4 linked regions of the Homo sapiens genome follow. The protein of the gene in region 3 binds, or shares a complex with, the protein of the main gene of each other region. Each region holds a gene or a part of one and is shown on either strand. Other genes may lie near its edges.

The links.
Region 1: DDX46 (region 3) and SF3A3 share a complex: the UniProt entries of both Homo sapiens proteins name them as parts of the 17S U2 SnRNP complex.
Region 2: DDX46 (region 3) and SF3B1 share a complex: the UniProt entries of both Homo sapiens proteins name them as parts of the 17S U2 SnRNP complex.
Region 4: DDX46 (region 3) and HTATSF1 share a complex: the UniProt entries of both Homo sapiens proteins name them as parts of the 17S U2 SnRNP complex.

Annotation. Positions count from the first base shown.
Region 1 is NC_000001.11:37,973,019-37,980,038, reverse strand, and holds part of SF3A3 (splicing factor 3A subunit 3), read left to right. Parts: intron 1-505; coding exon 506-574; intron 575-983; coding exon 984-1,051; intron 1,052-1,211; coding exon 1,212-1,319; intron 1,320-3,085; coding exon 3,086-3,155; intron 3,156-7,020. UniProt on the Homo sapiens protein: Component of the 17S U2 SnRNP complex of the spliceosome, a large ribonucleoprotein complex that removes introns from transcribed pre-mRNAs.
Region 2 is NC_000002.12:197,397,014-197,404,033, forward strand, and holds part of SF3B1 (splicing factor 3B subunit 1), read right to left. Parts: intron 6,752-7,020; coding exon 6,572-6,751; intron 6,023-6,571; coding exon 5,936-6,022; intron 5,814-5,935; coding exon 5,543-5,813; intron 5,118-5,542; coding exon 4,972-5,117; intron 4,876-4,971; coding exon 4,729-4,875; intron 4,513-4,728; coding exon 4,387-4,512; intron 3,924-4,386; coding exon 3,702-3,923; intron 3,422-3,701; coding exon 3,239-3,421; intron 3,154-3,238; coding exon 3,042-3,153; intron 2,026-3,041; coding exon of another isoform or gene 1,956-2,025; intron 1,569-1,955; coding exon 1,448-1,568; intron 1,104-1,447; coding exon 972-1,103; intron 1-971. UniProt on the Homo sapiens protein: Component of the 17S U2 SnRNP complex of the spliceosome, a large ribonucleoprotein complex that removes introns from transcribed pre-mRNAs.
Region 3 is NC_000005.10:134,753,789-134,761,780, reverse strand, and holds the start of DDX46 (probable ATP-dependent RNA helicase DDX46), read right to left. Parts: upstream 3,003-7,992; 5' UTR 2,843-3,002; coding exon 2,826-2,842; intron 1-2,825. UniProt on the Homo sapiens protein: Component of the 17S U2 SnRNP complex of the spliceosome, a large ribonucleoprotein complex that removes introns from transcribed pre-mRNAs.
Region 4 is NC_000023.11:136,492,607-136,500,603, forward strand, and holds the start of HTATSF1 (17S U2 SnRNP complex component HTATSF1), read left to right. Parts: upstream 1-4,985; 5' UTR 4,986-5,078; coding exon 5,079-5,264; intron 5,265-6,991; coding exon 6,992-7,172; intron 7,173-7,551; coding exon 7,552-7,599; intron 7,600-7,997. UniProt on the Homo sapiens protein: Component of the 17S U2 SnRNP complex of the spliceosome, a large ribonucleoprotein complex that removes introns from transcribed pre-mRNAs.

The sequences.
Region 1 (7,020 bases), on a different chromosome or scaffold from region 3:
TCCTGCCAACCAAGAGCTTATCAGATCATATGTTAGGAATCTACATTCTCACTTCTAGGGATAAACATGAGTTTTTCCTGAACTCTCCAGGGAGAGAATGTGGACAAACCTTAGCTTCATCCTAAACCTGGTGGGGTTTTTTTGTTTTTTGTTTTGTTTTGTTTTGTTTTGTTTTTTGGGAGACAAAGTCTCCATCTGGCTTCTAGGCTGAAGTACAGTGGCATGATCATACCTCACTGCTGCAGCCTCAACCTTGTGGGCTCAAGAGATCTTCCCACCTTAGACTCCTGAGTAGCTGGGACCACAGGCACATGCCATCATGCCCAGCTAATTCAGATAATTTTTTGTAGAGACAAGATTTCACCATGTTTCCCTGCCTGGTCTCTAACTCCTGAACTCAAGCAATTCACCTATCTTGGCCTCCCAAAATGCTGAGATTACAGGTGTGAGCCACCACACCTGGCCTAAACCTGGATCTTAATAAATACCATATTGTTCTTTCCAGAAAGAGACAAGCAGTGCCCTGACCCATGCTGGAGCCCATCTTGACCTCTCTGCATTCTCCTCCTGGGAGGTATGTTTCCTTCAGCAGTAGTAGTGTTCTCTCTGTCTATTTTTCTGTCTTTAAAGACTGCTCTCCTGTCTTTAATACCATGGTTGTGTTGTGATAAGGCACTATTTCTTGAGATCAAGCATCTACAAAGAAAGTAGCAAGGCAAAAAGAAAAAAATTACTACTTGGGAAACTGAAATAATTATTCTAACTACATTAAGCCGTAGTAAAGTAAATGGAACACTATCAGTATGGTTAAGTCTGAAGATAACTATAGATTCAGTCCTCTGGAGAGTTTAGACTTACTGCTAGATTGGCTGTGAAATGTGTGGTCCTGCCACAGCCTCAGGAACACCCACCCTCTGGCCTGCATTTGGGGTTTCCCAAAAATCTGTTAATGTAATATTGTAATTTTTCTCTTCTTTGTATAGGAGTTGGCTTCTCTGGGTTTGGACAGATTGAAATCTGCTCTCTTAGCTTTAGGCTTGAAATGTGGCGGGTAAGGAATAGTTTTTCTATCAAAACTATCGATTTACTGTGTGTTTGCACAGTCTTCTAAGTAGCTCTGATTCCATTTTTTTTGTTGCTCCACACTGCAAAAATAAGCCAGCCTGTGTGGTAAAGTAACCCTAAAATCCTTTGCCGTCCTGTCTCCTTAGGACCCTAGAAGAGCGAGCCCAGAGACTATTCAGTACCAAAGGAAAGTCCCTGGAGTCACTTGATACCTCTTTGTTTGCCAAAAATCCCAAGTCAAAGGGCACCAAGCGGTGAGTGGCTGGGGTAGCACTGCTGCTTGTGGCTTTTAAATGTTATTCCCATGCAGAATTTTTAACCACAGTGGAGACTTTAAAGCCTGCTTTATCTCCGTTATTGGTTGACAGAGATCCAGTCTGCTCTTTATCTCTGCTAATAGCAGAGAGTACTATCACTGTTAATATAAACCAAGGACCGTCTGTATTCATCTGATTGAGAGCACATCAAGTTTCTAAATTTGAAACCATATTCATGGCACCTTTAATAGGTTATGGAGGCTAAAAGGCTAAATAGGTTCAAAACCTATTTTTCTAAGCTTATTTTTGGTAAAGTTGAATCTAATTCTTGAGCTACATACTTATACAAGGTATTTTCTTTTTTCTTTTTTTTTTTTTTTGAGACAGTCTCACTCTGTTGCCCAAGCTGGAGTGCAGTGGTGCAATCTCAGCTCACTGGAACGTCCACCTCCTGGGTTCAAAAGATTTTCCTGCCTCAGCCTCCTGAGTAGCTGGGACTACAGGCACGCACCACCACACATGGCTGATTTTTTGTATTTTTAGTAGAGATGGGGTTTCATCATGTTAGCCAGGCTGGTCTGCAACTCCTGAGCTTAAGTGATCCACCTGCCTTGGCCTCCCAAAGTGCTGCGATTATAGGCGCGAGCCACCGTGCCCGACCCAGGGTTGTTTTTTTTGTTTGTTTGTTTTTTTCTTTTTTGAGATGGAATCTCGCTCTGTTGCCCAGGCTGGAGTGCAGTGGCACAATCTCGGCTCACTGCAAACTCCGCCTTCTGGGTTCAAGTGATTCTGCTGCCTCAGCCTCCCGAGTAGCTGGGATTACAGATGTGCAACACCACATTGGCTAATTTTTGTGTGTTTTTTGTTTGTTTGTTTTTGAGACGGAGTCTTCCTCTGTCACCCAGGCTCAAGTGCAGTGGCGCAATCTCGGCTCGCTGCAACCTCCACCGCCCTGCTTGAAGCGATTTTCCTGCCTCACTCTCCCGAGTAGCTGAGATTACCAGAGTGCGCCACCATGCCTGGCTAGTTTTTGTATTTTTAGTAGAGACGGGGTTTCACCATGTTGGCCAGGCTGGTCATGAACTCCTGACCTCAGGTGATCCACCTGCCTCAGCCTCCCACAGTGGTGGGATTACAGGCATGTGAGCCACCGTGCCCAGCTAATTTTTGTATTTTTAGTAGAGAGAGGGTTTCACCATGTTGGCGAGGTTGGTCACAAACTCCCAACCTCAAGTGATCGCCAGCCTCAGCCTCCCAAAATGCTGGGATTACAGGCATGAGCCACCGAGCCTGGCCCAGTATTTTCTTAATGTACGTTTTTTTCTAATTCTCACAACAACCCAGAAAATTAGTTGTTATCCTGAGTTTTTGCAGATAAGGACTCAGAAAAGTTATGGAATGTGTCCACTCTCTCATAGTTCTAAGTAGCAGAGTCAGGATTTGGGCCTAGGTCTACCTGCTGCAGAGCTTGCTCTTATATACCACATTTCCTTTGTAGATTATAATGATGGAAATGTAAGCGGTCTTGATGTGTCCTTCATCTTCTAAGTGAGGTCATAGAGGAAGCCTCCATGCATTCTGAGAAATACCCTCAGTATTTGTCAGAGAGTCCTGAGATGAACAGAGCATTTGCTTTCATAGCATCGTATTTCTCATGTGCTTATAATTTTTAATGCAGTTGTGCAATAAATGTTCCCAGATATAGGGAACAAAACAATGGATGAGAGAATCCTTGAGTGAAACAGCTTGTTTCTTTTTCTCAGAGACACTGAAAGGAACAAAGACATTGCTTTTCTAGAAGCCCAGATCTATGAATATGTAGAGATTCTCGGGGTAAGTGACTGACTGCTGAAAGTGGAAAATGGTATAAAGCACAGGAGTTAAAGGGAGAGGAACTCACAGAAGATACTTTTTCATTAGGTTCAAAAGAGGAGTGGATAGCTGATAAACTAGTATGGCACAAAATAGAGGTCAGGGTACAAGGCTCTTCAGTAAGTTCCTATTCTGTTGTTAGATGATACTCCCAAAGTTGCCCAATTCCCATAAAGCCAGTCATGGAGAATAGAGTCCCCTCACAATATAATGTCCAGAATAGTGCAGATTCTGTGCCTGAGCTTTAGAAAATACTCAGGAGTAGCCCACAAAGCAGACACTCAAAGGGCAAGTAACAGAAAGGCTACTCAAAGTGGCCTTTCAGTTATGACTTATGAAAAGGCATTTTCATAAGTCATCTCATGTAAGTCAACTTACATGTTCATAAGATTATGAGAAACTTAGTAGGGCTAGAATATTATTAGTACAAAGCTGGCAGTGAATGTTCTTGAATATTTCAGGAGGAGCTGAAGTGTGGGTTGGGGTAGAGAAAGGCCTAGCCTGACCAGTATGCTTGTCTCAGAGAGAAAGCAGGGAGAGGAGTAGGAGGAAAAGAAATCTCTTTCCAGGAAGAAAAAGTGGAAGAAAGGGCAGCACTCATCCAGAAAAGATGATCAGTGTCTCTGGAGTCCTTCAGAAGACCAGCCTTTCTGATTGTGTCTGCTGTGTACAGTTTTTTTTTTTTTTTTGAGACAGAGTCTTGCTCTGTCACCCAGGCTGGAGTACAGTGGTGTAATCCGGGCTCACTGCAACCTCCACCTCCAGGGTTCAAGCAAGTCTCCTGCCTCAGCCTCCTGACTAGCTGGGACTACAGGCATGCGCCACCACGCCCGACTAGTTTTTTGTATTTTTAGTAGAGACAGGGTTTCACCATATTGGTCAGGCTGGTCTCGAAATCCTGACCTCGTGATCCGCTTGCCTCGGCCTCCCAAAGTGCTGGGATTACAGGCGTGAGCCACCGCGCCCAGCCCAATTTTTAACTCTCAGAGCCTTTCCCTTTACACATACTCGCATGGTCCGTTGAGTGGATGGCTCTGGATCAGATAGCTTGTTCACATATTTTTGTTAATTGCCGTGGACATTTTCATTCGGCCTTTGAGGACCATTCGTATAATAGCTGTAGAACTAGTCACCTGTGATTCTGTTATGACTGCTTTCAGTAAAAGGCTAGCTAGACATTGGACATTGGAGAGATATATTCTCCGCTGTGAACTTGGGCTGTGCTAGTGTGGACAGCAGGCTGAATTGCCAGTCTTGTGAGTGGCTGGGAGGCCACTCATGCCCTTGACATGAGATTTGTCCACCACTTTCTCCCTCTTTTTTTTTTTTGAAATAGTATCTCACTCTGTCACCCAGGCTGGAGTGCAGTGGCGGGATCTCAGCTCACTGCAACCTCCGCCTCCTGGGTTCAAGTGATTCCTGTGCCTCAGCCTCCCTGGTAGCTGGGACTACAGGTGTGTGCCACCACACCTGGCTAATTTTTGTATTTTTGGTAGAGACAGGGTTTTGTCTTGTTGGCCAGGCTGGTCTTGAATTCCTGGCCTCAAGTGATCCGCCTGCCTTGGCCTCCCAAAGTGCTGGAGCCACTCGACGGCCTCTCCATCCTTTAAGAGCATTTTGCTTTCCCTGCCAGGAGATGGCACTATTCTCTTCGGAATTCCAACCAGTTCTAGCCAAATACTTTCCAGAAGTTGCTCTCACTATGAACTGATAAGATTTTTGCCATTATTATACCATTTGTTGATGTCTGTTGGTTTTTGGACATTATGCAAATTTTTTTGATACAATAGTGAATAAGACACAGCCTCTTGCCCTTAAGAAACTCATTTTGTGGTTAGGGGAGACAAATAATTACAATATAATGTGATACATACCTGAATAAAGTGAGGTTGAGTCTTCTAAGTAGAAAGAGAGAAGGGAGAAGAAAAAGTTTCTGGTAGAGGAAACAGCAAACACAAAGATACAACAGTATTAGATAAAATTATATGTTCAGGAAATGAGAAATGCAGTGTGTGTGGAATATGGCTTATGAGGGAGGGAATGGTCGGAGAAAACTCTGTCAGAGAGTTATGTTGGAAATTTGGACTTTGCCTTATAAGCAGTAGGAAGCCAATAAAAGTTCTCTTAAGTAGGATAGCGTGCCACTACAGATTTGGGTTTTTAAACAGATAAACCTGGTAGCAAAATGGAAATTGGATTGGAATGAGGAGAGACTCAAGGCAAGTTAGAAAGTGGTCATCTTGGGCCGGGCGCAGTGGCTCATGCCCGTAATCCCAGCCCTTTGTGAGGCCAAGGCGGGCAGATCACAAGGTCAGGAGATCGAGACCATCCTGGCTAACACTGTGAAACCCTGTCTCTACTAAAAGTATAAAAAATTAGCCAGGCATAGTGGCGGGCATCTGTAGTCCCAGCTACTCGGGAGGCTGAGGCAGGAGAATGGCATGAACCCAGGAGGCAGAGGTTGCAGTGAGCCGAGATTGCGCCACTGCACTCCAGCTTGGGCGACAGAGCAAGACTCCATCTCAAAAAAAAAAAAAAAAAAAAAAAGTGGTCATCTTGGTGAGGAAAGGAGAAGAAAGTCCTGGTTAAGGAAATATTTTTTTTTTAATTTTTTTTTATACTTTAAGTTCTAGGGTACATGTGCACAACGTGTAGGTTTGTTACATATGTGTACATGTGCCATGTTGGTGTGCTGCACCCGTTAACTCGTCATTTACATTAGGTATATCTCCTAATGCTATCCCTCCCCCGTCCTCCAACCCCACAACAGGTCCCGATGTGTGATGTTCCCCACCCTGTGTCCAAGTATTCTCATTGTTCAATTCCCACCTATGAGTGAGAACATTCGGTGTTTGGTTTTCTGTCCTTGCGATAGTTTGCTCAGAATGATGGTTTCTAGCTTCATCCATGTCCCTACAAAGGACACGAACTCATCCTTTTTTATGGCTGCATAGTATTCCATGGTGTATATGTGCAACATTTTCTTAATCCAGTCTATTATTGATGGACATTTGGGTTGGTTCCAAGTCTTTATTATTGTGACTAGTGCTGCAATAAACGTAAGTGTGCATGTGTCTTTATAGCAGCATTATTTACAATCCTTTGGATATATGCCCAGTAATGGGATGGCTGGGTCAAATGGTATTTCTAGTTCTAGATCCTTGAGGAATCGCCACACTGTCTTCCACAATGGTTGAACTAGTTTACAGTCCCACCAACAGTGTAAAAGCGTTCCTGTTTCTCCACATCCTCTCCAGCACCTGTTGTTTCCTGACTTTTTAATCATCGCCATTCTAACTGGTGTGAGATGGTATCTCATTGTGGTTTTGATTTGCATTTCTCTTTGTAGATTCTTTGTAGTTCTTTGTAGATTCTGGATATTAGCCCTTTGTCAGATGGGTAAATTGTAAACATTTTCTCCCATTCTGTAGGTTGCCTGTTCACTCTGATGGTAGTTTCTTTTGCTGTGCAGAAGCTCTTTAGTGTAATTACATCCGATTTGTCAGTTTTGGCTTTTTTTTGCCATTGCTTTTGGTGTTTTAGTCATGAAGTCCTCGCCCATGCCTATGGCCTGAATGGTATTGCCTAGGTTTTCTTCTAGGGTTTTTATGGTTTTAGGTTTAACATTTAAGTCTTTTTTTCTTTTTCTTTTTCTTTTTTTTGTTGGAGACAGAGTCTCACTCTGTCGCCCAGGCTGGAGTGTAGTGGCATGATCCCAGCTCACTGCAACCTCCACCTCCTGGTTCCAAGCGATTCTCCTGCCTCAGCCTCCCGAGTAGCTGGGACTACAAGCATGTGCCACCATGCCCAGTTAATTTTGTGTATT
Region 2 (7,020 bases), on a different chromosome or scaffold from region 3:
CATTTTCTTAAGCCACATGGACATGTGGTGTCTCGTTTTCTACAATGACTGTTTTTTCCTATTTTAGTTGTGATGGAGTGGAAGCAAACCACCACAGATTATCTCACAAAGCAGCTATAATTCAGTTAAATCCGTGGAGTAATGTTAGAATAGCATTTTTGTTGTTTTTTTTAGAGACAGGGTCTCGCCCTGTCGCCCAGGTGCCCAGATGCCCAGGTTGGAGTGCAGTGGCACAATCACAGCTCACTGTAACCTTGAACTCCTGGGCTCAAACAATCCATAATAAGATTTTTAAAACATATAAAGCATTAATATGAGACTTAAATGATGTTGTGAGACTAAAAACTTGCCTTAATAGTTTAAGCAATATCCTAGAAGACCAGCACACATTTTAAATTTTTCTGAAAATGGTACTGTTTCCCTCCCTGAAAACACCTAAAGTGTAATTAAAGTAAGTCTTAAACCCTTCCATCTATTTTAATTAAGAATTTAAGACTACAGGCTGTGCGCAGTGGCTCACGCCTGTAATCTCAGCACTTTTGGAGGCCAAGATAGGTGGCTCACTTGAGGCCAGGAGTTCGAGAACAGCCTGGCCCACATGGTGAAACCTCATCTCTACTAAAAAATACAAAAATTACCTAGGCGTGATGGTGCATGCCTGTAGTCCCAGCTACTGGGGAGGCTGAGGCAGGAGAATCGCCTGCACCTGGGAGGCGGTGGTTGCAGTGAGCCGAGATTGAATCACTGCATTCCAGCCAGGGTGACAGAGCGAGACTCCGTCTCAAAAAAAAAAAAAAAGAATTTAACAATACATTCCAATAATCAGAAGGTCAGTGGTTAAATGAAGAGCTTTCTCAACTGCATTATTCAGACCATGCCTCAAAAGAGATTTCTACATGGAAGTATTTTCCAATACCACAATGCATTTATTATAAAGTAATTTTTTTTTAATGGAAGTAAATAACACTCACCCAATGGCCTTTGCAATATAACCAAATGTGTTGACTGTGGCTCTACGAATAGCCTTTTTGTGGGCTTTTAAGAGCTCTAAAAGCTCAAAGCAAATCCTCATCCACTCTCTTGCAGATACATATTCAGCTCCCCTAATTTAAAAAATACACATATTAATTATTGTGACATTAAGAAAAGTTTTAAGGATAAATTTGCAAATTCAGTTCTAAAAACATGATTAACTCATTTTAAGCATTAAATAAAACTTACTACTCTTCAGAAAGGCTGAAGAGTTAGTCTTACAGGTTTAGTCCTAAAATTACATTGCCACCCCCATTACCATCCAAATTGAAATTTGACTGAAAATATTAATACTGGATAGCCTAATCTTTTACACTTATATTAGTGACATTAAGGAAATTTTGCTAATTGAATACAAAGTGGCCAAATTTGAAAATTGATACTGCTTATAAAAATGTGTGGGTAATCTGCTTACCTGTCAGCAATACGACCAACAAGATCAATACAATTCTCTTGTACTTTTTCATGTCTGTTCTTTAAGATGGGGGTGAGTCTAGGCAGCAGATCTTTAATTGGTGGAGTCATCTTATGCATACCTATTTAATAGAAGTCAATAAACTATCAACATTTGAATTGCAACTTTTGTTCACTTTCCTTTTACTTAGCAATGTCATATATGACTATGTATAAATATAAACTTACAGCTGCCTAGGGAAAGAGAAAGCCCCAGATTCTGACCAGACTCAGAATCGTTTTTAACTTTTATTAACAATTTTTGATTATGTATAGAAATGAAAGAAATCAGTGAAGTGATTTAAAGGATGATGGATACTCAATAACAAAAAAGTTTTGTTTGATTCTGAAATATATTTGTGCACTGACATTTAAATATGGGGACAGCTTATGTTCCGGCCATACACAACAATATAAGCCAGAGGTAAACATGTAAATAAAGCAAAAATTTCCAGAAAGGGCCCCCTTACCCTTTAACTGCAAAACAAACAGATCTCCAGTCTCCCTGCAATGCAGGGCATACTTGGATGGTATTTACACCTACGAAGAGAGAAAAAAGGAGGCAGCTGGCAGGGGCTCTTGCTCTAACTAGAATCACTTGCTCTGATTCTCTCTCCATTGCTCTTCCCATGCCTCTCTGACAAACAATATGGTTTAAAACTCCCTGCAAACCAGAGCCCTACAAGTGGCCATGTAAATGATTTCTGGCAAGTAGCTATCTTCAAGTATAGAGGATAGGGTTGCATTGGAGATTATATGCAAATACAATAGTTTAAACATGTGTATCGCATAAATACCTCTTACAAAATGAGGAAAAACAAACAGTGGCTCTCTCACAGTCAGCTATTTTGACTTCTGCTAGGTTATCAGAGCCTCTAAACTCTGCAGGAGTTACATTTGGCAACAGTTATAATCAATTTAAAAAAAAGATTAAATATAAGAAACCATTTGTTTTCTTCATACTGCCCTAATGGAATAAAAACTTTGCTCTCCATATCCAAGACCATTTGTAATATAGCTGTATTACGGGTTAGAAAACTGAATGGACAGTATTTAAAACTTGGGTATGTAAATAAAGACAATAATTTGATCAGTTCACTTTTCTCTGATTATATTCCTTGAAACTGATCACAAGCAAAAAACCTGTCATAATCGCTAATTCAAGGTTTAAATATATATATATTGTTCTAAAACTAAATTAAAACTTTAGGATTGCCTTTTCACCCCGCAGCAGAACATGGCAGAATATATTTCACCTGACACACTATTTCTACTAGGGTCCTGTATTCCATGACTTCAAAGCTTTTTGAGCTGTGACTACTCCCACCTCTCATGTAGGTCCTAAACTTACCCTTTTTTTCTCTTTAAAGTAAAATATAAATGGGTTTTGGGAAACAAGACTTTTGTGACATCCCCCGACTTAACTACAATCTTGAAGTGCTTTTAAAAAGCTAACAAAAACCTCCCAACTCCTAAATAAGATTTTACTTACGAAAAAAAAAAGAAAAAGAAAGTTAAAACAAGAAAAAGTCTTATGTAACCAGCAAATTCCATACCTATGACATTTACAATGGCCTTCAGTGCTCCAAGAATGCTGCCCAATACTTCAGGGTACTCTTCACCCAAATACTCATACAATACAACACCCAAGTGTCCCATCAATTTTTCCTATAATAAAACAAATAATGTTAAAATGTTACTATTTACATTAAACTATTTGGGGAAGAAGTAAGAATTTGATGCAAAAGTTTACCTCTTGACAAGTCTTCATGACAACAGCAGTTCGAGAAATCAAGTCAGCTGCCTGTTGCCTAACTTTAGCAGATTTGTTATTTAAACGCCACAAAACTGTACCACAGATCTGAGGCAAGTATGGTTTGACTCGTTTGCCAAGAGCATTAACCACTGTGCCAAAGCCGTTCAACATTACTGAGTCCTAAAAAATAAATTTAAAAAAAAGACATATTCATTTGGTTTATGACTGCACAGTTGAAATACACTAAGAGTCAACCTTTTCTAACCACCCAAACATCTGTTGCTGTTTTTTTACATCAAATCTTAAAACTTGAGGTAGAATAATATCGTTTGGTAACCCCCTGAGCATTTTAAAAATTACTTCAAATTCAATTGCATTCTAGAAAAATTTGCTTGACAACTAATATGCTTTTCTACAAATATTAAAGTTAGTAGCAATGTGCCATAATAGTTTTCATTACCTCTGTAGTCTGTTCTTGGAAAGCATAAAGAATACCATCAATCAGTTGTTCTTCAAGTTTATGATCAATATCTGCTGCTCCCAAATTACCCATAATTTTCTCAATTGTCTCCATCACCATTTTTCTGTACTGTTCGGCTTCATCTTTCAGATCATCCACAATCCTGGATATAATTTCTGCTGCACCTACTTTGTTTGCCAACTCCACAGTAGTATCAACTAACTAAAAAGAACAGAAAAACAAAAAACCTTTTAGACTGCTTTTCCAAGGAAATAAAGCAACATCATGAAAACCAAATACTCTAAATATACTACTTATTTAGCTAATAAACATGGTAAGAATGATTCATTGCTACTTATTAAAGTTGAAGAGAAAAGTGACCAAACATCGAAAAATGAGTATAAGTTAACATGATTCAAGGTAAAACTGTGTCCATGTTTCATCTAGCCAGATAAAGCACTGAATGTACCAGACAAAAACATCAATTCACAGTTAAGTATTAATCCTCGAATCCAAAATCAAAATGGAAGTTAACTGGCTGACTAAAATCCATCTCCTTTCATAATCAAGCACATATAAACTGTGAGATAATCAAGGCAAAAAATAATATACAACATGCATTCAAGTTGACTAAAGAATGAGTTGAAAGGACTTTTGAGAATATTCTTTTACAATAAAAGCTTACCTGTCGGTAATTTCTTCTATCCAAAGCCATCCTGTGCTGCCAGAAGTGTTTAAAAAAGGGAGGAAGAATCTCTGTTTTAATGTAGTTTGCTTCTACACCATCTGTCCCACAACACTGTTTTACCACCTAAAAGGTTAAGAAATAGTAATAATAAATCAACTGACCTGAAATGAAGAGAATACTCATTGCTGATTACGTGATTTTAAAAAATAAAATTTAAAAACAAATCAAACAGTATTCGTGTAACATACAGTTTTTTTTGTTGATTTTTAAAAACACTTTAAAATTCTGTTAGAACCATGAAACATATCCAGTTTACATTAACAAATCTGGAATAATTACCTTCAGCACAATTTTTTTCATTTCCTCATCAGGAGACTGGAATTCTCGAATAAGGATTAACATCACTTCTCTAGTATAGTAGTTGGCATATTCTGCATCCATAAGAGGAATAAGATACCCAATAGCCTTCAAGAAAGCAGCCAAACCCTATTTTTAAATAAAAAATATATGTACTTTAGTAATTTAGATTTATGTCGCCTTAACTTTAATGAAGATAAATCAAAAGGTAATTGGTGGATTTACCTTTCCTCTGTGTTGGCGGATACCCTTCCATAAAGGCTTTAACACAGAATCAAAAGATTCGATACCATAAGGAGTTGCTGCTTCAGCCAAGGCAGCAATGGCCAAAGCACTGATGGTCCGAACTTTCTGCTGCTCATCCACAAGACCTACAAAACCAAACACAGGTTTTAACTATGCCCCAACATTACCTAAGTTACACAATATCATCCAGATTCTCTCAATATATCAACTATTCAGCCAAACTGCAGAATATGTTCACATTAAACAAAATTAGGTAAAAGCAAAACATGAACCATAGCCTGTCAGCAGATAATATAACAAACCCATCATAAAATCTATAGTTTGTAGAGCTATGCCTTTCCATTTATCTCCCCAAATCAGTAGCCCAAATTTTAGGACAGCTGTCCTATTAAACATGGACAGGCTGTGTGTGTACCTCTAGTCCCAACTACTAAGGAGGCTGAGCAGGAGGATCACTTGAGCCCAAAGGTTTGAGTCCAGTCTGGGCAACATAGTAAGACCCTGTCTCCTAAAGAAAAAAAAAAAAAGACAAAGTTACATTACAACTTACCATGTTCAATGATTTCAACTAAACTTCTAAGATGTGGCAAGATGGCACAGCCCATAAGAATAGCTATCTGTTGTACAATCTTAATACCAGTGTGTCTCGCTTGCCAGGACTTCTTGCTTTTGCACACAGCTTTTAAGAAGGGCAATAAAGAAGGAATGCCCAGGGCAGAGGCTACAACAGCAAAAGCTCTAGCTGTTGTGTTACGGACATACTCATCCATGTTATCTATATCAGGTCTCATGGTAGAGATCATAGTAGCCAGACCAGCAGCCTAAAATGTAAACAAAGAAAGGACAGTCATGAGTTGGTAATATTAATCTTCAACCATTTCTTTCCATAATCAATTCCATAAACAGATATAAATTTTCTTCTCTAGAAATTAAATGTAAATACCTTTGCCAAATTAGAAATGATCTCTCGGCCTTCCACTCTAGCATAGTAATCTTCATCAATCAATAGCGGTTCAATGACCACGAGGATCTGAAAAAGAGAAAAGAGAAGAAGCTACACTTTCACATCAATTACTGATGAAATGCTCATGTACAGAATTAAACATACATAAGAAATTTAGAATTATCAGGACTTTTGTTAATCAAGGGACGAACTGTTTAAGAATTTTAATTATACAAGTTCAAACTCCAGACAGAGATGAAAATTTAAGAGAGCTATTAGTGACACACTAATATTCAATATTTTTTAAAGAAATAACTTATACACCCTATGAACATACTGCACCATAATTACCATCGGTGAAAAAACTGGTTCTTAATACTAACTGGCGTTAGTTCTCATATGTTCTCATCCTAATCTAATTTTAATAAAAGCAAATGAAAAAATTAAATAATATGAACCTCTTACGGCAAAGATGACAAAAACTAACATCTGTACATCTGTATAAAACTGTATTTGTACATGTATGGTGTGTACTTGTGCAAAGGAAAAGGTCTAGGAGAATATGTAAATTTAACATTGATTAACTGAAAAAGTTAAAACTTTAAACTATCAGAAACACTATTAAGGAGAACAAACCTTATGCACATATGGACGAACTAAGTCATCAAGTTTGTACAGTATCCTATCAATAACTTTCACAAGTAAATGACGCTCTTGATCCTCAAGTGTAGGAGACATCAGCAGAGGAAGAATCTGATTAAACAAAGGACCAGCTCCAAATTCACGAGCTTTATCAGTAATCTGACGCAATGCAGCCTGGGAAAAAGAGCAGAGTAATAGGTGTGGTTTCTTTATAATCAAACATTTTGAATGAGCAAATTACTCAAAGAAGATTTTCCATACTTTAATATTTTAGTGTTTACTTTTACACACATTTTACATAGACAGCATGAGTTCATTTCCATCCAAATTACTCTGGAATTTCAATTCCTGTGATAGAAATTTTATGTTAACTCAAAAGAGTAATTTAATAGAACGAACCACAGAGGTATGTACTAAATGCCTTCATTTCCCTGAAGTATCTT
Region 3 (7,992 bases):
GAAGCTAGCACCGATGGGATTTAATGATGAACTAAATGTCAAGTGTGACAGCAAGAGAGAAATCACTCAGTTGCCATTTACCAAGATGGGAAGGCTGAGGGAGAAATCCAGGGAGAAGGTGGATCAGAATATTAGGTATCCAAGTGGAGATATATAGTATATAGTTGAAATATTAGCCTGTAGTTCAAGGAAGAGGTTTCTCTAGAAATATAAACTGGACAGCTATTAGTGTACAAAGGCTATTTAAAGCTATAAACCTAAATAAGATCACTAGGAGATGAATGCACCTGATTATCTCTCAAGCACCTCAAGTTCAATCTGTAGAAACCCAAACTTGTTACCCTTCCCTCCCCAAACGATTAATCGTACCAACTTCCGGTCACTAGGCTCAAAACATTAGTCATCATCAATATTTTTCTCTTGCTCTCATTCGATACAATAAATAAAACACCAATTGGCTGGGCACAGCGGCTCATGCCTGTAATCCCAGCATTTTGGCAGGCCAAGGTGGGCAGAGAGCTTGACCTCAGGAGTTGAGACCAGCCTGGGCAACATGGTGAAACCCTGTCTCTACAAAAAATACAAAAATTAGCAAAGCGTGGTGGCACACGCTTGCAGTCCCAGCTATTCGGGAGGCTGAGGTGGGAGGATCTCTTGAACCTGGGAAGCATAGGTTGCAGTGAGCCAAGATTGTTTCAATGCACTCCAGCCTGGGAGACAGAGCAAGTCCCTGTCTCAAAAACAAAAAAACAGGCCGGGTGCGGTGGCTCACGCCTGTAATCCCAGAACTTTGGGAGGCCGAGGCGGGTGGATCACAAGGTCAGGAGATCGAGACCACCCTGGCTAACACGGTGAAACCCCGTCTCTACTAAAAAATACAAAAATTAGCCTGACGCGGTGGCAGGCGCCTGTAGTTCCAGCTACTCGGGAGGCTGAGGCAGGAGAATGGCGTGAACCCTGGAGGCGGAGCTTGCAGTGAGCCGAGATCCCACCACTGCACTCCAGCCTGGCGAAAGAGCGAGACTCTGTCTCAAAAACAAAAACAAAAACAAAAAAACAACCAAGTAATACCAATTTCACCTCTGTAATTCCCTTCACATTATATCACCTCCACAGAGTTCCAACCGTCACTATTCTATATCAGACATATCTACCTAGGAGATTCTTAAAGACTGTAGTCTTCCTGTTTCTATTACTTTTCCATTAAATCTTACTCATTGCTGCTAAGGAGAATTCTGATTCTATTACACACTTTTTACTCAAAATCTTCAAAGGTTCACAAACAAATTCTGATCTTCAAAATCTACAATCCACCCGCTTTCTGGGCCCAAGTCCTATTCAGGACCTACCTCCTACTACTTCTCAAAAAAGATAAAATCCCTTCATGAAACCTACATATGCAGAAAAATTGGGCTTTTTAGCTATTTCTCTAACACCTTGCGCCTTCCCACCTCTAAGCCTTTCATGATTCCCTGAACAAACCTAGAGCACAGGCCATGCACACCAGAGAGGTAAAGGAGAAGGCTGACGGGCTAGAATGGACCTTCTTGTGAAGGGCCTTGAAGGCTGTCATAGAGTTTAAATTTCATCTTGGAAGCAGTAGAAACCAATGGAGACTAAGTCAGGGGCATGCCATCATCTTATCTCTACTTCAGAAGTGTCACTCTGGCTGTAGTGTAAGGGATCTAACAATTAGGAGAGCAACAGAGGAAGACAATCAATTCAGAGAATCAATTTAAAACAGATGTAGTAGTCTGGACAATAAATAATTAGGGCCTCAATTAAGTCAGGGACAACCAGAATGGGCAAAGGATGTAGAATCTAACAGGCTGTGGGTAGTGAGAGAGAAGAATGAGTCAAATAAATATCACTTTCAGATTTCTGGTCTGGACAGCCTTCCGGAGATTTAAAACACCGTCACAGGAATTTTCTGTAGTTAAAGAAATATTTTTTATCTTCATCCAGGTGATGATTACACGGTTTATATATTTGCTAAATTTCATCAAGCTTTACCCTTACGTTTTGTCCATTTCCCTGATTGTTAATTGTACCTCAACAAAGAACTGTTAGCACTAACAACAAAAGCCTTCATTGTTCCTAGACATAAAATATCTTTCAGTCATTGCTAAATACATAGCAAATAGTCATTTTTAACATAAAAATCTCAAGGTTCCTAACAATCTATCAACAATCTAAAGTTGTGATGAGATCTAATGAGTTCTAATAAGAGCTCATAGTCCACAACTTCAAAAGGACAGAAAAGCAGGTAACAAAGTTACCTGCTTAAATACGAAATCTATTTGCGAAGTAAATGCCCACGCAACAAGTATTTATTGTAGCCCAGTAAAAGCCTAGTCGTGTATAGTGCTGTCGATGCGGTAAAAATGTCTGCCCACACGCTCCTTTCAAGTAACTTGGGAAAAGATCATACGCGCACAAAGAACTAAAATACAGAATGACAGGAGTCGAGGAAATGTTGGAAACGCGAAGCAATAAGCAATCCAACTGGGATCACTTCTGACTGAAGTAATCAGGGCAGGCTCCCTTGAAGTGGCGGGATGTGGTGCCCAATCACTAACGTCCTGGAGGGTTGTTCCCGCTCCAGGGGCTCGAACCCTCTGATGGTAGTGCAGGGGAAGCCGTCGCTGGCCCAAACACAACCATTCCCTCAGCCGAGGTCCCCCAGCCCTTCCAATGCTCGCGGGGCAGCGCTGACCGCACGTGGGGCCGCGCCAGGCCTGGCCCGGCGGCCACCTCAACTCCCGCCTCTTCTCACGACCCCAAGAAGCCGCTCGCCCGCTAGCCCGCTCGGCGCTCTGCCTCACCGTGACTCCCGACCCATGCTGCCGACCGCGGGAATACTGGTGCCCTTGAGTACCACGCACAGGCGAACCGGACAAACAAGGAGGCTGAGCTGCCCTCAACGCCCGGCAAAGACCAGCGCTAAACACTAGCAGCACCTACAGCTGTGGCGGCCATCCCAGCGCGGCCAACGAAAACAGGACGTGCTGGCGCCGGCAGCCGAAGGAAGAGAAAAGCCGACCGGAAGCTGCCGCTCTTCCACAGCGCCCCACCTCGACTGGAGGACGCACAGCGCCGGCCCCATCGAAAGGTGATGCCTTCGCCCCGCCCAGTCTTCCCGGCGCCCGCACCACGCCCGGCTGATTAGTGCGATGGAGCGCAGCGCGTCAGCCTCGCCGGCCCGTGAGGGTGTTTCGCGCCAGAGCCAAAGAGGCGTCCTGGGCAGGCTGATGTCTGCCTTAATTTGCGCTAAATAATGCGGCAACTTTCTCCGTACACGCTCTTTATTCATGTATACATTCACTCATTTATTTATGTTGTCATATGCCAGGCTTGTGCTAGATCCTGGGGAGCTCACAGTCTATCCGGGAAACAGATGACTAAAGCCAGCACAGTGGCTCACGCCTGAAATCCCAGCACTTTGGGAGGCTGAGGCGGGAGGATCTATTGAGCCCAGGAATTCAAGACCTGGGCAACGTAGCCCTCGTCTCTGCAAAGAAAATAGTAATAATAATAGACTTGACTAAAAACACAAGCAGAAGTAATACAGCAAGGAGAGTCCACCATTGGAGACGGATTCAGAAAACACGTTTCCCTTGGAAGTGAACTCTGAGGTGAGATTTGAAGACCCGGTAGGTGTTAACCTAGTAGAGAACAAAGAGCTAAAAATACTTTGGCAAAAGATTAGTTCTCAACATTGCTTGCACTGGGAAGCTTAAAAATAAAACAAAAAAACAAAAAAAGGGCCAGCCATGGTGGCTCATGCCTATAATCCCAGCACTTTGGGAGGCCGAGGCAGGAGGATGGCTTGAGCCCAGGAATTCAAGACCTACCTGGGCAACATAGCGAGACCCTCTACAAAAAATAAGCAAAATAATTAGCCAGGTGTGCTGGCACGCCTGTGGTTCTAGCTACTTGGGAGGCTGAGGTGAGAGGATCATTTGAGCCAGGGAGGCTGAGGCAAGAAGATTACTTGAGCCCAGGAGTTTGAGGCTGCAGTGAGCTATGATGACTCCAGCCTGGGTAGCACAGAGAAATCTCATCTCTAAAATATTAGTAAATAAAATAGAAGCCTGGGTTCCACCCCTATGTTCTGATTTAATTGGCCTGGAGTGCTTCTTGTGCACTGGGAATTTTTAAGCTTCCCAGGTAATTCTGAAGTACAGTCAAGATTGAGAACATTATTCGAGAGTTTGGGCACCAAAAAAATGTATATGTATTGTCTCATGCAACACACACAGAAATGTTGAATTTTTTTTGTTTTTTTTTTTTGAGACGGAGTTTCGCTTTTGTTGCCCAGGCTGGAGTGCAATGGTGAGAGCTCAGCTCACCACAACCTCCACCTCCTGGGTTCAAGCGATTCTCCTGCCTCAGCCTCCCAAGTAGCTGGGATTACAGGCATGCACCACCACCCCAGCTTATTTTGTATTTTTAGTAGAGATGGGGTTTCTCCATGTTGGTCAGGCTGGTCTTGAACTCTCGACCTCAGGAGACCTGCCCGCCTCGGCCTCCCAAAGTGCTGGGATTACAGGCATGAGCCACCGTGCCCGGCCATGTTGAGTTGTTTTTGCAAAAAGCTATAATGGAGTTGGAGAAAGGCTCATATTTTTACTTTACTTGCCTCTGTACTATTTTACTTTCTTACACCTAAAGATGATGGAAAAGTTCTGTGTCTTGATTTTAGTGGTCATTGAATAGATTTGCACATTTTTCAAAATTCACTGAACTGTACCCTTTAACTGTACATGACTTATTGTATGTAAATTTTACCTCAACATAGTTGATTAAAGAAAAAAAGCAAACCAACGAGTGACACTCCAAGATGAGTTTATGCTCCCCACGCCCCCCGTGGCTTGCTGCCCACCTGTGGTAGCTGCGAGAAGCATTGAAGAGGGATAGAGACTGGAGGTTCTGGCAGTCCATGCCAAGGGTAAGAAGGCCTGAGCTAATTAATGAGTGACAGGATGGACACCAAGGAGGGTTAGGAATCCCCCTGTAAATTGTTTGGATGTGGGCTGCAGGTAGGGAATGTGGATTTCAACCTAAAAGACATAGAAAACCACCAGTGGCTTAAACAATGAAGACTGAGAAGTGATCAGATTCTGGGTGTATTCTGGAAGCAGCTCTCAAAGCGCCAATAGATAAACTGGATGTGAGCTATGACGGAAAGGAAGGAATAAAAGATGACTGCCAGGTTTTCAACAGAGCTATTGTGGACTGTGGTGAATTTGTGGAGATGAGAAAAGCATGGAAGCAACAGATTTAGTGGAGGAAATAGAGAAAGTCATTGAGTTTGTTTCAGTCATGTGATATTTGAGGTGCCTACTAGACATCCAGGAAATAACAGCTACAAATAGAGGCGGGAGAGATATGGGTCCTCAGCATTTTATAGAATGTATAATACACAGTATTTGAAGCCATGGACTGGATGAGGCCATGCAGAAGTGAATGGAAATAAGTCCTTAATTTTTGAAATTAACACAATTTGAATATTGCTTAGAATCACAGGATTAGGGCCAGATGCAGTGGCTCATGACTGTCATCCCAGCACTTTAGGAGGCTGAGGCGGGTGGATCACATGAGGGCAGGACTTCAAGGCCAGCCTTGCCAACATGGTGAAATTATGTCTCTACTAAAGATACAAAAATTAGCTGGGTGTGGTGGTGCGTGCTAATCCCAGCTACTCGGGAGGCTGAGGCATGAGAATCACTTGAAACCGGGAGACAGAGGTTGCAGTGAGCCAAGATCGCGCCACTGCACTCCAGCCTGTGCGACAGAGCGAGACTCTGTCTCAAAAAATAATAATAAAAAGAATCATGGGATTAATGTTATAGATTTTTAAAATCACAAACTCAAACTTCTTGATTTTAAGTAACAAAACTGAGACTCAGGAAACATATTTCATCCTAGATCACTAACCTTGTTGGAATCTAACCTGGAACTAGAGTCCAGAGATCTGACACTTAGGCCAGAGCTGTCTTCAAGATACTTTATTTCCAACTCCCCTTTAAGACAACACATTAACAAGACAATTCTAACTGGCTTAAATATTTCTTATATATATAATATATATTCTAATTAATATTACATTAATATAATATATATAGAATATATATTTTATATATATATATATATATATATATATATATATTTTTTTTTTTTTTTTTTTTTTTTTTGAGACAGGGCCTGGTTCTGTTGCCCAGGCTGGAGTGCAGTACTGTGATCTCGGCTCACTGCAGCCTCCTCCCAGGTTCAAGCGAATCTTGTGCCTCAACTTCCCAAGTAGCTAGTAGCTGGGACTACAGGCACACACCACCCCACCAGCTAACTTTTGTATTTTTCATAGAGAGGGTTTCGCCATGTTGCCCAAGCTGGTCTCAAACTCCTGGACTCCTGGTCTCAAGCGATCTGCCTCTCTTGGCCTCCCAAAGTGCTGGGATTACAGGTGTGCACCACCCCCACTCCACCACAATATATTTATAGTAAATTCACATCAAGTCTGTCCTGGAGGAAGGCTTTTTTTTTTCTTTTTTTAGAGACGGAGTTTCACTCTTGTTGCCCAGGCTGGAGTGCAATGGCGCGATCTCGACTCACTGCAACCTTGCCTCCTAGGTTCAAGCGATTCTCCTGCCTCAGCCTCCCAAATAGCTGGGATTACAGGCATGAGCCACCACTCCCAGCTAATTTTGTATTTTTAGTAGAGACGGGGTTTCTCCATGTTGGTCAGGCTGGTCGCGAACTCTCGATCTCAGGTGATCTGCTGCCTCGGCCTCCCAAAGTGCTGGGATTACAGGTGTGAGGCTGGAAGATTTTATCTATTTAGATAGGTGAAAGAAATGACTATAGTCTGTGTTCTAATACATCACTTTCAGTAAACTAACCTGTTTTCCAAAGCAGCAGATTTTGACTGTGACTTGACTTACTAACCCAGTATTGAATATCTAATAACCCACTTGCTGTTTTTAGTGCCAACTGTGATGACACATGTCCATTTACACAACTAATTGAACTAAAAAAACTACTAGGTTACATGGTCAAGATGTCACCTCTAAACAACCATCCTTGTCCCTCTAGTTTTAATCCATATACCTTTTTTTTTTTTTTTTGAGACAGAGTCTCACTCTGTTGTCCAGGCTGGAGTGCAGTGGCGCGATCTCAGTTCACTGCAACCTCTGCCTCCCGGGTTCAAGTGATTCTCATGCCTCAGCCTCTTGAGTAGCTGGGATTACAGACGCGCCCGCCACCACACCTGGCTAATTTTTTTTTGTTTTGGTTTGGTTTTTTTAGTAGAGACAGGGTTTCACCATGTTGGCCAGGCTGGTTTCAAACTCCTGACTTCAAGTGATCCACCCGCCTCGGCCTCCCAAAGTGCTGGCATTACAGGCATGAGTCATGGTGCCCAGCCAGTCCATATACATTTCAAAACCCAGAAATTTCCAAATAAAAAACGTTTTAAACTATTCCAAACACTAAGAAACTTCAATTCCCAGGCCAGGCGCAGTGGTTCTCGCTTGTAATCCCAGCACTTTGGGAGGCCAAGGTGGGTGGATCACATGAGGCCAGGAGTTCGAGACCAGCCTGGCCAACATGGTGAAACCTGTCTCTACTAAAAATACAAAAAATTAGCCAGATGTGGTGGCATGCATCTGTAATCCCAGCTACTCGGGAAGCTGAGGCATGAGAATCGCTTGAACCAGCCCGGGGGGCGGGCAGAGGCTGCAGTAAGCTGAGACTGACATCACTGCACTCCAGCCTGGGCGACAGAGACTCTGTTCTGAAAAAAACAAAACAAAAATTAGCCAGGGGTGGTGGCACATGCCTGTGGTCCCAGCTACTTGCAAGGCTGAGGTGGGAAGATTGCTTGGGCCTGGGAAAGCAAGGCTGCAGTGAGCCCTGATCATGCCACTGCACTCCGACAGGGGCAACATAGTGAGACCTTGTCTCAAAAAAAAGAAACTTTCAGGTCGGCTG
Region 4 (7,997 bases), on a different chromosome or scaffold from region 3:
TTTATATATGCCAGTGAATCGTAAGGGAAGTCAAATGGGAAGGAAGGTGTAATAAACAAGATGAAACTTAAAAATCTCATTTGTTGTTTAATCACATCTGTGATGCTTCTAACTCCTCATATACTGTGATTTGCATAAAATTGTGTTTGTGTTTACTGTGTGGTGTAAATCTAGAGATACTTTGTATGTGAAAAGGGGATCACAAAAGAGAGAAAGCATCTCTTAGGCTATTTTCTTAAAAATAAACCTTCACAGAATGGCTGTCCTTTTCCATTAATCTGTATTCCATTGTAGCTGAATCTGTGCAGTTGAAATGAAAATGTTTTGGAGTCAGCGAATATAAAGCACTGAGTAAGGATCTGGGGCACAGTGCTTGCCTTACTGGGTCAACACTTACAACTGCCATGGATTAATAACTGGGCTAAGTTATCATTCACAAATATTGTTAGGAACTTGCCTTATTCATAGGCAGAATAAGTGGTCATGTTTATGGTGTCATTTGAGGACCTCTGTTGAAAAATCTGCAAACCTGCCACAGTGTCTGAAATTCTTCCTTTACAGAAATTCGTTTCTTTCTGGTAAGCAGTGCCCTCTTTCTAAAAACATGCAGAAGTACCATATGAAATCCCTAACCCCTGGGTGTGCAATTGTGATCAGATCATCTTCCTGCTTGACTTTATTAAACCCAATGGGTGCCTAAGTCCTGTAAGTGTATGGCCTAATTAATCTCTGCCCATGGAAATCAGATGGAAAGTTCTGATTTTCTATCCTGTGCTCCTACCTGCTAACATCATTCACTTGTTAATAATTATTGTTTTAAAAAAAAAAACTCTTGTCAATAGACGTGTCAGATTTAGACCTGTGGTTTCAGAAAAATTTTTGGAGCAAATTTAAACATGTTTGGCACTATAGGTAAATTTGTATTTAAAAAAAAAAACAATGTTTGAGTGTGCTTTTGGTAATGCTGAGCTTTCTTTAAATGGCTTGTGGAGTCGTGAACTTTTGCTAATGATGTGGCTCCAAAAGGTAATACATATTAACATTAGACTTTAACTTTCTGTAAAATTGGTTTACTTAAAGTTGGGCGGGGGGTGTGATACTGTATTAGTATTGTTTTAAAGTGGACACTGTAACACGTGTGGAAAAACAAATAAATATGAAATAAAGTTTTAAATGACTCTGTGTAACTTTATATTCTAAAAACAGTATTTCTGACAGAATATAACGGAACCCATTTTAATTCCAAAATGTTACTTTCAAGTCACAGAGCCCTAAAACAATCTTACTATTTTCCTCACTCTGAGTAAAAATTACATCTTTACTCTCCTAAACTCTAATAACTTTTCAGATATAACTTGATAAAAGTACCAGAATACTAAAGTGAAGACAGCTTTTTGGAAGTTCATAAAACTAGAACTCAAAGAACTTTTTTTTTTTCCATTCTCAGCAATCCTTAGGTGAGTTAGGGATATAAAATAATTCCCTAAATGGCTGTGTAGGGCATCAGCCTCCTTCCATCCGTAGTTGTAGTTGGCTTAAAATTCACAGCTTTGCTTTGATTTTTGAGAGGGTGGTCTCTTTTTCAACAGATTATCCTTGTCATGGCTAACCTTACAAGTAGGCCCTAATAGCCACAATTTTTTTCACACTGACTTTTGTGGTTCCAGAAATGTTTCTATGGAAAATTTCATTTCTTTGGAGAGAATTCTAAATGGCGTGGATAGCTGGGATATATACAAAATAAATTCTGTATACATCTCAGTGTTGCTCGGGGTCTTCCCTGACCCAAGACTTAAAACATGGAACATAATACAGTAATACTCCACAAAGCATGAAAACACAGTCACGAAGTTAGGCATTACCAAAACGTCCAGCAGGTAAGTCTTCATCATTGAAGGTGAAAGCACTACAAAACACTTAACGACTCGCTTTTCTGCTGAAAATAGCAAATTTGGGTTTGCAGAATTTCTGCAGTTTGAGTCATCTTAGGTCAGGAATTCATCGATCTTTTTGTCAGAAAGGAGTCTTTTTAGTTCCACTAAGCCTTGAGATTATAGGATGTGGGGATAGGAAAATTCCTGGACAGAGTGGGCTTGAAGGGACCATTTTTTAAAAATCTGATTTGGTATAGTTCAGTAATTTTTCAGAAAGAGTTCTTAGGCCAGATAGGTGAGTCCTATCTGGAGTGCAGTCTCTGCTTTTGTAGGTTAATGTATATTTATCCACCAAGAAGGCTGTGGCCTATTAGGGCAGAAGTACAACACAGATCACCCCATATAAAGGTCAGAGGGAAGAATGAAGCACATATTCAGAGAGAAGCCAGCTATGTAGATTCTTCCTAGGTCCAGCATCCCTTTATGTGGCCCATCTACACTGCAGTCCTGGAGTTTCAGTAGCCGCCCCTATCTTTATAACCCACCCCCCTTTTTTTTTGTTACCTCGAGTGTTTCTATAACTTGCAAGAAAAAAAACTTGTAAAAGACAGGTTACAAAGACAGAGATGCTTTCAGATTACCTCAGTCATTAGGGAGTTATTCTATGAATATGCAGGGAAATGAGAAAAAATAGGAACCAGGCCTCACAGAGACCACAGCATTGTGCAATTATAAACTGCCAGTTCTCACGACCAAACAGAATGCCATTACAGGTACAATGTGTGTACCTCTCAACTCCACTGCCTCACTAGTATAGTGACTCAGTGACCCTTCTTCGCTGCTTCAGCTGCTCCTCTCACCCGTGGGGAACTTCTCCACAGCAGGCCTCTGTTCTGCCTTTTACCTTCCCTGGGAGTATCTCCTTGCTTCTTTGCTACTCTGACCACATCCCTGTATGTTCCATACTCAAACTTTCTGGGAGAGGTTCTTACTGGCTCAGTCAAATCCAGTCTAGAATGCAGAGCTATCTGCCAGGTCACCACACAGACCCTGGGCAGCCTTTGGGCCAGGATGGCTGGGTGACATGGGACATAAGCATAAGGAACCCTTTAAGTCACCTGCTCAAAAGACGGTTGTGGTAGAGCCGGCACTCAATGATATGTGCAGTAGGGTGGTGTCGCATATTATCACCTATGCTGTGAACTCGGGAATGAAATGGGAGCCCAATAACACATTGCTGAAAACAGCTGTATGCTATTTTTGGATCCAGGAAAAAATATTTAGCAAAGTTTAAGCCTAATAAAACTCACATTACCTATATCATAAAAGTGCACACAAATTCAGTTCTCCAAGAGTTCCTGCCAGAATGAGAACTTCATGAAAAAGAAATGTAATTTAAAAAAAAACTAACCCAAACTATTAAAAACTGTTGTTATCGTTGAAACCATAGATTCACACAACTGGTGTGTGGGGAGCCAGGATTTTCTAGAAGTAGTACTCAACTGCTATGTTTAGAAGTGAAGGTCACTGGAATAGTGAAATAATTTCTTCTGGTAAGGTTTTCCCGGACCTCAAGCCCGGGTTATGATATTTATGTTTACACTAATGGGTTCCTTATTATTTTAATGAATTAGTATTTTTTAACAGCCGCTTTCATTTTTGTGCAGAAATATTGGTAAGTATAAACCACAAACAAACGTTTTTTGGGGTTTTCAATGTTTTAGTGTAAAGAGGACCTGGAACCAAAAAGTTTGAGAACTGCTGTCCTCCAGCATCTCATATCTGTCAGGTGCCAACCATCTTAATTCTGTCTCCCCTGAGCTGTGCCTGTCTTGTCAACTCCTGGGTCGCCAGAGCCTCACGCAGTGCCCTGCACTTAGTAGGGGCTCAATAAATACCTGCCCAACTTAAAAATATGGACCTTTTCCTTTTCAGCAATGAGTGTAATTCCTGAAAACAAAGTTCTGTTTAGAACAAAAAGTATGCTGTGTCTTTCTAAAAGAATGACAAAGAAGCGGAGTTTCCCGGCCAATAAAGCTGGTGTTTACACTGGGATGTTTACATTTATGCTTAAGTTTCAAGTTCGAAGCTCGAGCGCCACTGAAATCTGCAGTACAAGAGGCAGGCAACTGCTGCCCTTTCCATCCTTCCCACGGAGTCGAACTCCAGCCAGAGGAAGGTATGAGACCGATAAAGGAGAAGGCTGACACCAGAAAAAGAAAGTTGGCCCTTCTACCCCTCATTCGTTCATTCATTCGCTCATTCCGCATTAGACACCAGAGCCGGTGCCAGGAGTTTAGGCTACCAAGATGAACAAGATCCGGTGTCTATCCCCGGGTGTCGTAAAGAAACAAGTAAAAGACGCGGTTCCTGAGCGGGGGAGGGGCCTTTGGGCGAAGGAGGCGCGTCGTTTTCTCGAAGCCAGAGAAATTTGTCCTGTCCGCCCCACCCACTCCCCTAAGATGGCGCCCTCGCGAAACCCGCCCGGCCACCCCCGCGAGGGAATATTCCCACGCCTTCCTTCCGTTTCCCTCCCGGGCCGGCCGATCCGCCGGGGACCCCGCGGAGCTCAAGGCCCTTGAGGCGCCGCGGGATCCCAGTGGCCCTCGCCCCGCCCCAAACCCGACCCCGGTGGGCGTCGACGCGCAGCAGCAGCGGGTCCCCCCAACCCCGGCGCCCCGCCTCCCCGGGCCTCGCGCCGCATGCCGGCGTCGGCGCTTTTTGACGCCATAGTGGGCGTGTCGGCGCGACCCGCGACGTCGCCACGCGCCGACAATGGCGGCTGCGTCGGCCTGAGCAGGGCTTAGTTTAGAAGTAATTTCCTGACGTTGCCGAGGGAGCCGCAGTCGCCTCAGATCCGGTCGGCGGCGGCGGCGGTGGCGGCGGCGGCAGCGCGCCTGCGCGCTCCCGCAGCGCCCTGGACCTAGCGGCGGTGCCGAGGCCCGGCGGAGCAAGCCAGGTGGGCGGCGGCGCGGCCGAGCTCACAGCATCAGCGCGCGCGCGCGGTGGGCGGGCAGAGAGGGGGGCGGTGCAGCCGCCGAGCGGCCGCGATTTCCCGGGGACTGCTGGGGCGCAGCGGGGAGGCGGGCCGGGGGGCGGCGGGGCGCGAGCAGAGCGCGGTTGACCTCCCTTTCTCTGCTCAGCTCCAGCGTCATTTCGGCCTCTTAGTTCTTCTGAACCCTGCTCCTGAGCTAGGTAGGAAACATGAGCGGCACCAACTTGGATGGGAACGATGAGTTTGATGAGCAGTTGCGAATGCAAGAATTGTACGGAGACGGCAAGGATGGTGACACCCAGACCGATGCCGGCGGAGAACCCGATTCTCTCGGGCAGCAGCCGACGGACACTCCCTACGAGTGGGACCTGGACAAAAAGGCTTGGTTCCCCAAGGTAGGAGAGTGCCACGGGCGCCACTGCAGAGCGGGCCGCCTGGCCAGCCTCGCGGGGCACTCCTTTTACGTTTGCTTTGCTGAGATCCTTGGTCCTTGGTCCTAGCCCCCTTGAATAGCGACGCTTCTTTTTGTTGTGTTTGTTGGGGCACCGATGTGTAAAAGAACGTAAATCTTTAGGGTAGTGTCTTAAATGTAATTTTTAAGTCTTTTCTATGCTTTATTAATCTTGTCTGTGAAGGTCACAGTTGATTATTACATGACTGCTTTTTATTGCAAAGAGGAAAAATACCAAGAACAAATTTAGTAGCTGTCCATTTCTGGTAGCCAACCCCACTTGTCCTAGGAACTCAGATGTTTAGCTTATGTACTATGTGCAAAATGCAGTTTCTTGATTTCTTTTTTAAAGTAGCTGTTTATATAGCTTTACTAATTGAACTTTCTTTGCACCTTGCTTTACTTTCCTAGTAAATTTTGTCCCTAGGCATATATGTTTGAACCATATAACCACAGGAATAAGACTGGAGATACACAGAATACAGATGGAAAATCTGTGTATGTTTGTTTGGAATACTTGGAAATTGCTAAGTATTTTTATTTCAGCTTCGAAGTAAAATAACTAATGTTAAACTTGATTCTGTAAACTTTGTGGTAAAAGTGCCCTTTTAATCTGGCTCTCATGAGCAGGAAAGGGCACACTAATAGCACACAAATTGACTTGCAAGTCAATGATACAAAACCTGTCTCCACTGCGCGACTGGACTGCTATTGTAAAAATTCTTTTGCAACTTTTCTTTCCCATTCTGTATTTGTATATATATTCCAATCCCTCCAGATTGTTAAAATTTACGATTTCACTTCTGTGTTGGTAGTGCTAGTTTGAGTGCAGATTTGGTTTCTTCAGCATTCTGAATACTTTTAACAAAGGTGTGATAATGGATTAATGTGTGACTTTATCCTTTTATGTTGTTGAAGCCCATACCTCTTCAAACTTTGGGTTTTACATTTTCCCCATTCCATGCCTGCCTAATATTGATTGGTATGATGATATAACTATATTTCTTTCGTTTTGCAATAACGCTTTTCCCCCAAAGGGGAGGAAGATAGATATGAGTTGGATTTGTCTTTAATTTGTTCTGATACTAAAATATAACGTCATTTAATTTGTGATAAAGTTAAAATGAGCATTTAGTTTTACAATTGTTAACCCCATTCTTTATATACCAAATCAGAGTTCTGTTCTGTGTGCTCTCTGCATACAGATATTTAAGTACTTATTGTACATGTATATTGGTGCATCTGTACAGTAAGAGAAAATTGGATTCTGTGGTTAGATTATTCATTGACTGTTGGTTTTTATTGTTTTATTATCTGGTTCTTCCTTTGTTGTATGTATTTGTAGCCTTAGTCAAGTAGTGTAGAGAGGTAGTAATTAATAAATGAAACAACTAGAAAAGGTGCCAGCATCACTTAAAATGCTTTAAATCGTATCTCAGACTTTTGCATTGATCATCTAAGTACTTGTGTCTTATTTTTTATCACCGTATGCACAATTTTCTATAGAAGGTGACTATTCTTGCATTTATACCTTAATAACTACAACTATTATCCACAGAAACACTTTTGTGTTAAGTTGTATAACTATGCTGTAAAAACACAATTTAAACTTCTTATGAGTGGAAATAATTTTGAATTTCTCTGTCCGGGTCTGTTGAATTGCTTGTGTAGATTACTGAAGATTTCATTGCTACATATCAGGCCAATTATGGCTTCTCTAACGATGGCGCATCTAGTTCTACCGCAAATGTTGAAGATGTCCATGCTAGGACTGCAGAGGAACCTCCACAAGAAAAAGCCCCGGAACCCACTGATGCCAGAAAGAAGGGAGAAAAAAGAAAGGCTGAGTCAGGTAAGTGGTTCTAGCTTACAAATTTTAAGTGTAAAAATTAAAAATATGGGTGTGCATAGGTACAGTTGCTTTTTCGAGAATTATAATAGCTTTGAAGGAATAAGGTGAGTTTTTTCTTTAAGGTAGTGTCAGTTATAAAGAATCAAGATAAACTGGCCATCTTTTTTCCAGATAGGGCTCTAAAACTAATTATTTCTCAAAAGATTTAAATCTTTTGAAAGCTGGGTAGTGATTTGAGTTAGTTTATCTTGGTCTTTTAAGAGTAACAGAAAGGTCGTCCTGGAAGTTTCAAGAAACTGCTGCTTTGTCAAGATTCCATAATATGACTCTTATCTTTTTTTGCAAGTGTTTTATTTATTTAATTAATTTTGATTTCTAGGATGGTTTCATGTTGAAGAAGACAGAAATACAAATGTATACGTGTCTGGTATGTATAACTTTTTAAACAGGTTTAAGGTAGGAAATACTTAATTTTGAGATTTTTCACGAAGTGATTTTTAGCTTTCAGTTTCTCCAGAGTCCATTTTTTATCATTGTGTCATTTTTTGTTCAGCCATTTATATTAGTAAGGAATATGTGTGTTCATTACAGAACCAAGAAATTTAGTGTGTAACTTTGCATACCAACCTTTAGGCCTGGTTAATGTAACTTACAGCAGTGTGTCCCTTCCCATTCAGTGAGGCCCTCAAGAAAGCATAATTTTAATGTATATTTGAACACACAAAAATGTGAAATTTCTTCAGTTCCGTAAATGTAAAACTTTTACATACATTTAGAAAATCAACATTGCATTCACCTAAGTTATAGATTTCTAATTGGTAGAAT